3 separate regions of the Homo sapiens genome follow, and all the other regions are linked to region 2. Evidence: fine-mapped expression QTL. A gene starts in region 2. Each other region holds a variant in brackets. All regions are shown on one strand. Distances are between the middles of the regions.

Region 1 (4,157 bases), 230 kb after region 2:
TATAGGTGCAGATTTTATATGAGTGGGGGCTTATATACAAATCACACATGGGTATATCATGTTTACACACATACACATACACACACATACACACACACAGATACACACACAGATACACATACACACATACACATACACACATACACACATACACATACATACACACACATACACATACACATTAGACACATACACACGTACACATACACACACACACTAGACACATACACACATACATACACGCATACACACATACACATACACACACATACACATACACATTAGACATACACACGTACACATACACACACATACACACACTAGACATACATACACACATACACACATATACACGCATACACACACATATATACGCATACGCACATACACATACGCATACATATACACACATACACACATACACATACACACACATACACATACACACATACACATACACATACACACATTAGACATACACACGTACACATACACATACACACAATACACACATTAGACATACATACACATACACATACACACACATACATACATACATATACGCACACGCATACACACATATACACACATATACATACACACACATACACATACACACATACACACATTAGACACACATACACACGTACACATGCACACACATACACATACATACACATACACATTAGACATACACACATACACATACACACACATTAGACGTACACACGTACACATACACATACACACACATTAGACCTACACACGTACATACACATACACACAATACACATACATTAGACATACATACACATACACATACGCATACACACACATACACACACATACATATACACACACGCATACACACATATATACACATACACATACACACATATACATACACACACATACATACACATACACACATACACATACACACACATTAGACACACATACACACACACGTACACATGCACACACATATACATACACATACACATTAGACATACACACACATACACATAAACACACATACACACATACACACACACATACACACACACATACACATACACACATACATACACGTACACACACACATACACGTACATACACACACACACACACACATACACACATTTTAAATCTGACCTGACATTAAGCAAAATAACAACTGAAAATTTCAGCTGATGGGTAAATTCCTTTATATTTGGGACAAACATGTGAAAGCAAGGGTGATACCCATCAGCCTAGAGTCAAAGGCTGGCCCCTGGAGGCCGCCTGCCTCTTGGTATCATTCAGAGCAGATTCCAAAATATGTTTTCCTTCAAAGAACTCACTTGTTTCCCCAGCGGACGGTTAAAACCTCAAAGGCGCACAGTTCCCCAGTGTGCTGTTCCCAGCAAGAGCCTGCATGCCCGGCCTGATTTCATTGTGAGTTCTCTGAGTCGAGGCTGTGCGGCCCCAGCCCTGCAGCCAAGCTGACCCCCCGACCCCAGGGGGCAGAGGCACTTCCGCCGGCTCACAGAAAAGGCATTCTCCTGAGGGCGTGGACAGACCAGAAGCCTGTGAGAAGGGAAGGAGGTCACCATCTGAGGGGATGCACTACCCGGCACTTCAGAAAGCAGGTCACTGGGCAGGCGCCCTCAAGGTCACTTCCTGCTGGGAAGCCCCAGGTCACCAGGGAGGGAACCCGTGCTTAATGCAATTAGATACTGAAAGAACAGAAGGGAACAGGAGAACAGCATCGAGTAAAGGGAAGTACATCTTTAGCTCCGTTCATTTTCCTTTCTTCTGCAGACTTTAGACAATACTTGCATTTGACTCGAAGCACTGTTTGGAAAAGGCCAGCCTAACTTTTGTTGAGCATCCACGAGCGTCAGGCTTTGTGTTAGACTTTTTTTTATGCAGCATCTCTAATTATCTGGAGAGGTGGGCACGGGTGTGCTGGGTTGGAGAGGCTCAGTGCGCAGACCCCAGGGGGTTGCAGTGGGGACCAGCACCAGGGTTCCTGAGGCTCGGAGCCCTGGCATCTCCTCCTGCTGCATAGCCAATCTCGGTGCCAGGCGGCCGGGGGAGGGTGCGTA[A/T]CTCCTGCCCAGGCATCACTCTGCTGGGTTTGGCGCGTGCCTCCTCCTCAGGCAGCCAAGCCGGCTCTGCTCCGGCGGCAATGGCTACTTTAATGTGGGGACTGGGGAGGCGCTGACTTTTGCTTTCCTTTGCCTTTTTTTTCCTGTGTCTCGCCTTCTCTCCCTTAACCCTTTGCACCCTGCCTTTCTCTTTCTGGGAAGAAGGAATGCATTCCTGAGGCAGAATGCCTCCTCCCACCCCTGCCTCCAGGGCTCAGGCCCCTCTCCTGAGGCAGTCGATCCTGGTGTCTTCTGGTTCTCCCCAGACATACCTCAAACAAATGCCCCCTCTTTTAAACAAGCTGTGGAATGCTTTACCCCCTGTGCTGCGCCTTGCCTTTTTTCATAACAGCTTTATTGATATACAGTTCACAGACCGCAGACTCCAGCTGTTTAAAGTGCACCACTCGTGGTTTTCAGTGTGTTCAGAATTGTGCAGCCAGCATCACAATCAACTTTAGACCATGATCGTCACCCTAAAAGAAGTCCTGTACCCATTGGCTGTCCTCCTCCCCTCCGCAACCCCAGGCGGCCACTCCTCTGCTTCCCGTCTCTGTGGCTTTGCCTATTCTGGACATTTCTTAGAGTGGGGCCCTAAGCCTGGGGTCTTCTGTGCCTGCGTCTGTCACTGAGCACCATTTCAAGCTTCATCCATGCTGCAGCGTGCTCAGCACCTTGCGTTTTATACTTCAAGAAATCTTGGAAATCATCCCATATCAGGAAATAGAAATCTGCCTCAGTCTTTTTATTTTACTGTATTAATTTTAATAGGTAAGATATTTGCTCACTCAACATTCAAGTGGTATAATCACTGCACAAGTTGGTGAACATGTTCACTAGCTCAGTGCTGTCAATCATTTCGCAATACGCAGTCAGCCCTCTGAACCTGCAGCTCTGCATCTGTGGATTCAGCTAAACACAGATCAAAAAAAATTCAGAAAAAAATACAAACAAGCCTGTATTCCCAGCACTTTGGGAGGCCGAGGCGGGCGGATCATGAGGTCAGGAGATGGAGACCATTCTGGCTAACATCCTTGGCGGCGTGAGCCTGTGGTCCCAGCTACTCGGGAGGCTGAGGCAGGAGAATTGTTTGAACCCAGGAGGCGGCGGTTGCAGTGAGCCGAGATCGCACCACTGCACTCCAGCCTGGGCAACAGAGCAAGACTCTGTCTCCAAAAAAATAAAAACAAACCTCTTTTCTTTATAAATTACTCAGCCTTCGGTAGTTCTTTATAGCAATGCGAGAACAGACTAATATACTATGTAACCCAGGCTGGAAAACTGCATCTATTTTAGATGTATGACTTAATGTTTCCATATCTGTATAGCGTTGTGCCTTAATATCCATGGGGGATTGGCTCCAGGACCCCCCTGCAGATACCCAAATCTGGACTGCTCAAGTCCTTGATATAAAATGCTTGTTTATTTATTTTATTTATCTTATTTTATTTGAGGTTCTTTGTGGCCCAGACTGGAGAGCAGTGGTGTGATCCTAGCTCACTGCAGCCTTGAATTCCTGGTAAAATGTGTAGTATTTGCATATAACCAATACACATCCTCCATATGCTTTAAGTCATCTCTAGATTACTTATAATGCCTAATATGATGTAAATGCTATGTAAACAGTTACTATTCTGCATTTTAAAAATCCATTTTTTTTTTTTTTTGAGACAAAGTCTCACCTGTCTCCCAGGCTGGAGTACGGTGCTATGATCTCCACTCACTGCAACCTCCGCCTCCCGGTTTCAAGCGATTCTCCTGCTTCAGCCTCCCGAGTAGCTGGGACCACAGGCTCACACCACCATGCCCAACTAATTTTTTGTATTTTTACTAGAGACGGGGTTTCACCGTATTGCCCAGGCTGGTTTCGAACTCCTGAGCTCAGGCAATCCATCTGCCTCGGCCTCCCAAAGTGCTAGGATTACAGGCATGAGCCACCACACCCAACCTAAAGAAAAGAGGGTTTAATTGGCTCGCGTTTTCACAGTCTGTACGGGAAGCATAGTGGCTTCTGCTTCTGGGGAGGCC
Region 2 (4,272 bases):
TGTGGAGCAGCCCTCTTCTATAGCTCCAAGTTCCCCAGGGTTCCCAGTTAGGGATGGTAATGGCCTCCCACTGTCAATACCCGCAGAGTGCTGCTTCGGCCTCCCCTGCTGGCCCCTCTGATCTCCACTTTGTGAAGTGGCTCTACATTCAGGCTGTCTTGAGTCACCCTCTCTGAGGATGCCATCTATTCTTCCAGGACCCTAATGGACACAAGTAAGTCATTTTCTTTTTCGCCTTTTAGAATGAGTTGCAGACAGTATTTCCATCTTAATTCAGCCGCCCCAATTCCCTGATTAATCTTGTGGGCCACCTTAAATTGGGCAGTCTGGGAAGATCTTTTAGAAGCAGTGAGGTTGAGGACCTTGACCTGGAGGATGAGGAGGGGCTTGCCGTTTAACGATCTGAGAGCAGGAATGCAGGTAGTGAGGTGGTAGGCAAGGGCAGAGGCCCAGGGGCCAGTGAGCTTGGCTTTTTCAATACACAGAAGCTTCAGGAACATGGCAAACAATACATGCAGTAACATTAACATAGGTAGGTGGTGTGCAGTTTATGTGCCTGTAAGAAATGTAGTGCTGACTTGTAAGAGGGTGTTGGCCTCTTTTCAGAATGAGGCCAACTTTTCATTCTATTGGGCATACACCAGACTTTAGCACAGAGCCAAGTCTATCAACCATAACCCCCGGCCATCTCAGGGGTTCCCCTCTGAATTAAGGGAAGGAGATGGAACATGTTAGCCAGAGGCACTCAACAGTTCTAAAAGGTGAGTATCCACAGAAATGAGACAACCAGAAGATATCCAGAGTGAGAGGGAAGATGGATATAACGTTATTTTTCTTAAAAAAAAATGGTTGGGGGGTTACTCAAATCACAAAGATCTGAACTGCTGGTTTGTTGTTTCATTTAGGTATTACAGGAGTTAGCGAAAGAGTTACTTGGGACCCATTTAGGACATGAATATGCCTGGTAGGAATCTGAACCCAGCCTGACTTCCAGCAGTTCTTCCCTTTCCTGCCAAGACTTGTTAGTGCCACTCATTCTGTTCTCTGGACCCAGGCTGTACGCCACAGCCTTCTTGCCTCAGCCCTGTGATTTAAATTTGCAGCAGAATCGCAGTACAGGTTAAGTGTGGTGCATACTAGATCATAATTTTTGGCCAAGTTGTGCGTCTAATACAGAATTAAGTCATCAGTTGAACAAGACTTGAAGTTCATTTTCTGAATCTTTCCCATTCGTTATAGTCTCAGTTTTCTCAAAAGCCCTCTCCAGGCCAGAAACAGTCTTACCATTTTTGTTTCCCGCACCGAAGTCCGGCAGCTAAGAACTCGTGAGAAGATTCTAAGGGGCGTATTTCTGTTTGGCGCAATCTCGACCCTGCCTCTCTAAATGTGAGTGCGCAGAGGTCGCTTTCCGCCACGAAGCGGCGCTAATCCACCACCGAGGACAGACCCACTCAGTTTTTTGCAGGATTTGAAGTTTTGAACTTTTACAAGTGTCAGAAAGGTAATTCACAAGTTTAGAGGAATGTGCTAAGGCACGAGTGGTGGGTGCTCCAGCCAGGGGTGGGCTGCAGAAGGGGCGCGGTGTCGCCGGGCTCCCCTCCGACCTCTGGGGTCCACAGTGCGGGCTTGGGCTGGGGAAGCCTCAGAGGTGCGTGCGGGGGCGGGTGCCGGCGCCCGGGCTAGGTGAGGGCAGAGGTGCGCGCTGCGCGTGGGATCAGCCCGGCGCCGACGGGTGGCTCCGAGGAGCTCGCTCCTTCCTCGCCCCCGCCCCCTCGCCGCGCGGGGCCAGCCCGGCCGCTCCTCCCCTGGGTGGGTCCCTGCTCCTTTTCTGGCAGGGTCTATTTGCATAGAGGAAACTGCCCAAAGTGGCCGCTGTGGAGGAGCTGGCTGCGGCGAAGGGGGCGTGCGCGGCGATCCGCTGCTACCCGGAGGCTAACCCCCGCGCCCGGCGGACCTCGTGCCTCGGGCTGTCCCGCCTGCTCCTCTCGCACCCAGCCTCTGCCCCAGCAGCACCGCCCCCTCGGAGAGTCCACGCGCGACGAACGCGCCATGGGCCCAGGCGAGCGCGCCGGTGGCGGCGGCGACGCGGGGAAGGGCAATGCGGCGGGCGGCGGCGGCGGAGGGCGCTCGGCGACGACGGCCGGGTCCCGGGCGGTGAGCGCGCTGTGCCTGCTGCTCTCCGTGGGCTCGGCGGCTGCCTGCCTGCTGCTGGGTGTCCAGGCGGCCGCGCTGCAGGGCCGGGTGGCGGCGCTCGAGGAGGAGCGGGAGCTGCTGCGGCGCGCGGGGCCGCCAGGCGCCCTGGACGCCTGGGCCGAGCCGCACCTGGAGCGCCTGCTGCGGGAGGTGAGCGTCTTGGCGCGTGGCTGGGGCGGACTTGGGTGTGTCGGGTTGAGGGTGGCGGTACGCTGGGAGCCGGGGGCAGCGTGCAGGTCTCTGGGAGGAGGGTCGCCCGCCGGCTGCGTGCGCTCGGGGCCGTCCCAGAGATGGGCACGTCTGCGCCAAGGCGGAGGCAGGGGGTGCCGGCCCCAAGGGGTTTTGCGGTCTCCGCTCCGGCCTCAGGGTCCCGTGCCAGGCAGGCGGCCGCGAGAAAGGGGAAGGAGAGACCAGGGACTTTGGAGTAACAGACCTAGGGTCAGTCTCCACGGGGTGTGCGCTCGGACACGCCGCTTCCCGCCGGCGGCCAGAGTCGGGGATAAAGATGAGGCTCGTGGGAAGTATCTGGTGACTGTGACCAGTAGCACCTACTGTTCCTAACCAACGCTGGTACACCTGGAGAGGCGGTGGTCACGGCGGAGGAAAGCCTCAGACAGGCCCGAGGGCTGGGCCCCGCTGTGCTCCAGTGTGTCTCCAGCAGCTCAGGCCCCAAGACTGAGCGGTCACCGTCGCACTGAGGCCTCGGGGATGGGGGTGGGGGCGCCCACATGACTTGGTAAGATGAGAGGAAGGAGAAACAATCGGGGGTGGAGGACCTGGATTCTGGTTTCAGGCGGTGCCATCTGGGGTGTGGGCTCGCAGGACATCCGGAGTTTCCCGTCCCTTACCTGGGAATCGCGACTTCCACAGCTTACTTGAAAGCTCATATGAGGCTCTGTGACACTTCTAAGGGTTAAGATTGCTGCTGTGTGTCTTCAAAGAAAGAGCCACCTTTGGGTCCTCCAAGCCCTCACCCAGCATGTTGGTCAAAGCCTCCGCCTTTTGTGTGCGGCATGTGCGGCAGTTCCCCTCCCCACGAAACTGGACAGGCCCTGGTGGGCTGGCCAGAGCCTCCCCTGCCGAGCCTTCCTCCTTCTCCTGGGATAGATGGCTGCTCCAGACCCCAAGGTCGCTGTCCAAGGGCGCATCCTCAATTGCTGTGTGAAAACAGGCAGGGTTTCAAGGTGGAGGAGAGGGAGCACTGGCCTGTACACCCCCAATTCCCTAGACTGCCCAGCTGGGATCTTTATTAACGTATCCAGCTGTGTTTCCAATGTTGAGTTCCTTTGGATTCCAAAGGAAAGTGGGAGAAGATGACTTGCGTACCACACCTCCTTGTTCACCCCACCTGTTTCTTAGTCACTTTAATTTAAGCTAGGATCACATCTCTTCTAGCTGGGTTCTGGGTAAAATTGCTGCTTCATGAAATGATTTCCTATTTTACCCTTGAAAGGGCCTGCAGACTTAAAACTCTCTCTCAGCCCTGCTGGAAACTCCTGGCGATGGTTTCATAATTGCCGCCCATTAGCTTTTGGCAAATGCCTGGAGACCAGGGTGTTGAATTGATTTATAGAGGGCCAGTAAAGTTTCTACCTGTTAGCGCTATAAGTGTGGCTGCTCTTTCTCATAGGAGGCCTCTCTTATTTGCTAAAAATAAACCGCAAGCCCTGATTGAGTAAATCAGAAGTCCTGATACAACCATTTTACAAGGAACTACAAATTGTGTCTATTTTAGGAGGGAGGGGCATCCTGGGCAGGCAGCCACTGCTGGGAAGTGTTGATTTTTGAGTCCTGAACTTCAGCGGGAGAGACTGCAGTTGCTCTCCCAGGCTTCCCCCCTCCCGGCTGCACTGAATTTTACCTGGGTGAACTACAGTGCTTGAACAATGAGTTATTGGACAGGGTGTGTGTTCTCTCTCTCTCTCTGTTCTTGATTAGAAAGGCAAGAGAAAAATTTAGAATCCAGGGAACCCTGTATTCTGGAGAATTTGCCGTGCCATTCACACGTGGTCCTGCTCGCTAATCCCAGCTGGGTATCTGAGGCGCATGCTGTGCGTGGAGTGTAAGCTGGCTGGGTTT
Region 3 (4,272 bases), 200 kb after region 2:
CCGGAACCAAGCCTGGACGTTTGGAGCTGAGAGCCGAATGCCCAGAGCGCCTGCCCGCCGGGGAGAGACTCTCGGAGGACGGCCGGGGCCGGAACCAAGCCTGGACGTTTGGAGCTGAGAGCCGAATGCCCAGAGCGCCTGCCCGCCGGGGAGAGACTCTCGGAGGACAGCCGGGGCCGGAACCAAGCCTGGACGTTTGGAGCTGAGAGCCGAATGCTGCTTAGCATGACTAATTAGCTCAACTAATTCCCCTCAGCCCTTGCCCGAGACCCAGGGCCTTGTAATTCTAGCCCTGCTATGTCCCACTTGTGACCCTGGGGAGGCATACCATCTCTCTGGGCCTCAGTTTCCCCATGTGTAGCAGATGGGAGTCAGACCATCAGCAGTCCCCTCTGCGTGTCAGGGTGGACTCAGGAACCAGGAGGCTGAACTTGCAGCCAAATGCTAGCTAAGGATGATTTTCAGTTTACCCAAAGATGTGAACCTTCAGGCCACACAGTTTAGCTGTGAACACCATGTTGAGGCCGGAACATCGTGGCTTTTGAAATGAGTTAATTTCTTGGAGCAGGAAAAGTACCCCGTGCTGTCAATACAGTTGTCTTCCTTGGAGATCTTCAGGGAGTGAGCTGAGAGAGGGCTGGTGGGGCTGCCTCTGCATTCCTGGGGTGGGGCTGCAGGCCCTATGCAGCCTAGCAGGTGTTCTCCAGCTGGGAGTGGCTCCGAGTTGAGGGCTCAGGGTTGACTCACCCAGTGTGTGGCAGGCACTGTTCTGTGCCAGCCTCTGGGCTGACTGAGCATCAGGGCATGGGTTAAACCTGTACCGGACCTGCCCTCAGGAGGCTCCAGGCCTGCAGGGCAGGACAGGTGCAGATAGTGACTGTATGCTCTGCCTGTGCTGGAGCCCTGGGCCTCCTCCTTGCCTGTCCTGCCTCTGCTTCCTCCCTGAAGCTTCCCTTCCTCCTGCCCTCCCAGGTCTTTCGCTCCAGGTTTGATAGTCTGTGGCCACACTGAGCACCTGCTTCCTTGGGACCAAGGGGTTATGTCCCATCCTTCTGTCAGGGCACCTGGTGGGCAGGGTTGGGGTGGGTCCTCCCCACTCCTTGGCACCCTTGGAAAATCAGTTGAAAAGAGGGAAGAAGCCAGGCTTGGTAGCTCACACCTATAATCCCAGCACTTTGGGAGGCCAAAGCAGGTGGATTACTTGAGGTTAGGAGTTTGAAACCAGCCTGGACAACATGGTGAAACCCCATCTGTACAAAAATTAGCCAGGCGTGGTGGTGCACACCTGTAGTCCCAGTTACTTGGGAGGCTGAGGCAGAAAAATCGCTTGAGCCCGGGAGGTGGAGGTTGCAGTGAGCAGAGATTGCGCCTGGGTGACACAGCAAGACCCTGTCTGGAAAAAAAAAAAAAAGGAAAAGAGGGAAGAGAGTCTTGATTGATGATTTTTATCAATTTCCTTCCACATGCATTGGGAGCTGGTCTCACATGATCTGAATGGTGCCAGGGAAATTTTTTTATTGTAGTAAAACATACATAACATAAAATGTACCATCTTAACCATTTTTAAGTGTACAGTTCAGTGGCATTAAGTATATTCACGTTGTTGTGCAACCATCATCAGAACTGTTTACATCTTGCAGAACGAAAACTCTGCACCCATTAAGCCATAACTCCCCATTCCTCCTCCCCACAGCCCTGGCACCCACCATTTACTTCCCATCTTTATGACTTGGAGTACCCTGGCTTGGCTCATCCAGCATTTGTCCTTCCGTGACTTCTTCTTTGTGGCTTCTTTCATTTAGCGTAACATCCTCAAGGTCCATCCGTGCTGTCGCATGTGTCAGAATTTCCTTCCTTTTTAAGGCTGAAAACTATTCCATTTAAGGCTAATGCTCCCTGCCAGGGCCATCTCTCGAGCCAGATGTTTTAT[A/G]TGCATGCAACAAATCGTTTACTTCGGCAACAATGCACGGTTGGGAGTTCGAAGGCCTGAGCTTGAGCTGCTTTTCTGCCAGGCACCCGCTGTGGGTCCTTGGGCTCTTGTCCTGCCTGAGTCTCTCTGCAAAATGCAGATGGCTGAGCAGGTGGTTTTGAGCACCCAGTGAGGGAGGGCGTTCTGTACTGGTGAGGAGTTGCACTAACAGTGGTACTGCTGTCAGACACCTCCAAGGTGTTTCTCTTCAGCGCTGGCACACTCTTAGGTCTCCTTTCTCCTTTTCTTGCTTGGCCACGTTGGGTCTTGTTCTTCCTGAGGCCTCCTCTTCTAATGTGGCATTTTCTGTTGAACTGTCAATCTTCAGGTAACAATGTGGCTATTGGTAGGAGGGGTCTCACTATTACATTTGCAAGTGGTGAAAAGCTGAGCCGGCCATGGGGTAGCGTGATACATTTGGGAGCCGAATTTAGGCTGAGGGTGGCAGCAGGGACCATTGTCCGCTGGACCCTGCCATCCTGAGTGGACTTCCTGTGGCCTCGTGTCTCAGTAAGAAGGCAGAGAACACAGTTTCTGTCCCTTTGTGCTTCTGTGTGGATAAAACATTGCTGCTGTCCTGACAGTTAGCCAGGGCAATTCTGGAGGTGGCGTGGCCTTCTGTGCAGCCCTGTTTCGTTGTAAGGTTTTTGTGTTTCTGTTTGAAGATGTGTCTTGTAGATGCAGTTTCTTTAACATTTTAGAAGAAAGATGGGAATGCAGTAGGTGCATTGTTTGAAAGATATAAATAAGGTGAGTGTGCTCCGAGGACACCCAGGGCAGATTGTGATGCTGCGTCCGTGCGGGCTCAGCCATTCAGATTGCTTTTGCTTTATAACAATCTTAGGATATAACTCACTATACAGTTTACCCATGTAAAGTGCAGAAGTCAGTGGTTTTTATTATACTCACAGAGTAGTGCAACCAACACCACAATAAATTTTGGAACAATTCATCAACCAAAAAAAAAAAAAAAAAATAGCAGACACTCCTATTACTAGCCACCCATCATTTCCCCTCAAAGCCCCCAGCCCGCAGCAACCACTAATCTACTTTCTGTCTCTACAGATTTCCCTATTCCAGACATTTCATATAAATAGGATCATATAATACGTGACTTTCTGTGTCTGGCTTCTTTCACTTAGCGTAATGTTTTCAAGATTCCTGCATGTTCATCCCGGTGTCAGTACTTCATTCCTTTTAGTCTCAAATAATGTTTCATTGTATGAATATACCACATTTTATTTATCCATTGATCAGCTGGTGGACATTTGGATACTTGGACTTTTGGGCCATTTTTAATAATGTTGCTGTGAACATGGGCGTACAAGTGTTTGTATGGACAGATGTTTCATTTCTCTTGGGTAAATAGGAGCAGAATTACTAGATCGTATGGCAGTCTGTGTGAAGCCATTTGAGCACCTGCCAGACTGTCTTCCAAAGCTGCTGCAGCATTTTTTACATTCCCACCAGCTATGGATGAGGGTTCCAGTTTCCCCCCATCCTCACCAACATTTTTGACTGTCTGACTCTTTTATTCTGGCCATCCTAGTGGGAGTGAAGTGGTACTTTATCGTGGCTTTAATTTGCATTTCCCTGCTGTCTAATGACGTTTCCTATGTCTTCATGTGCTTAGTAACTATTTGTTTATCTTCTTTGGAGAAAGGTCCATTGACATCCTCTGCCTATTTGTCTTTTTATTGTTGACTTGTAAGAATCCTTTACGTATTATAGTTACAGGTCCCTTATCGGATATATGATTTGCAAATATTTTCTGCCATTCCATGGCTTATCTTTTTCCTTTTCTTCACGGTATCTTTTAAAGCAGTGGTCTCCAACCTTTTTGGTGCCATGGACTGGTTTCGTGGAAAACAATTTTTCCACAGACAAGGGTGGAAGGATGATGGTTTTGGAGGCATTAGATTCTCATAAGGAGTGCACAGCCTGGATGCCTTGCATGCATAGTTCACAATAGGGTTCATGCTCCTATGAGAATCTGATGCCGCTGCTGATCTGACAGAAGGTGGAGCTCAGGCGGTAATGCTCACTGTCCTGCCACTCACCTCCTGCTGTGAGGCCCGGTTCCTAACAGGCCACAAACTGGTCCACAGCCCAGGGGTTGGGGCCCCTGTTTTAAGGCACAAAAGTTTATTTGTTTTGAAATCCAGTTTATCTATTGCTCCTTTGGTTGCTTATGCTTTCGGTGTCATATTAACACACTACTGCCTAATACCAAGATCATGAAGATTTACACCTATGTTTTCTTCTAAGAGTTTGATAGTTTTAAGTCTTACATGTAAGTCTGA

Direction of the effects. Alleles are on the strand shown, and positions count from the first base shown. SD is a standard deviation of normalised expression in the study named.
For the expression in putamen of the gene that starts at base 1,854 in region 2, allele A in region 1 goes with a lower level than allele T (small effect, 0.28 SD a copy in GTEx).
For the expression in cerebellum of the gene that starts at base 1,854 in region 2, allele G in region 3 goes with a higher level than allele A (moderate effect, 0.49 SD a copy in GTEx).

Evidence for each region. PIP is the estimated chance that this variant, and not a neighbour inherited with it, causes the effect.
Region 1: its variant is the best candidate, but not a certain one, in a credible set for the expression of COL23A1 in putamen (GTEx, PIP 0.81).
Region 3: its variant is the best candidate, but not a certain one, in a credible set for the expression of COL23A1 in cerebellum (GTEx, PIP 0.75).

Annotation. Positions count from the first base shown.
Region 1 is chr5:178,354,696-178,358,852 of GRCh38, reverse strand. The region is part of intron 2 of COL23A1 (collagen type XXIII alpha 1 chain); the gene reads left to right. Among named protein-coding and RNA genes, the nearest start is that of PHYKPL, 120 kb to the right of the region's middle. The variant A/T (reference allele first, on the strand shown) is at 2,091.
Region 2 is chr5:178,587,975-178,592,246 of GRCh38, reverse strand. It overlaps COL23A1 (collagen type XXIII alpha 1 chain), which reads left to right and starts at 1,854. Exons shown (of 29, transcript NM_173465.4): 1 at 1,854-2,343. The coding sequence starts at 2,050. RefSeq lists a silencer at 1,653-1,852 and an enhancer at 2,508-3,408.
Region 3 is chr5:178,390,792-178,395,063 of GRCh38, reverse strand. The region is part of intron 2 of COL23A1 (collagen type XXIII alpha 1 chain); the gene reads left to right. Among named protein-coding and RNA genes, the nearest start is that of PHYKPL, 160 kb to the right of the region's middle. The variant A/G (reference allele first, on the strand shown) is at 1,931.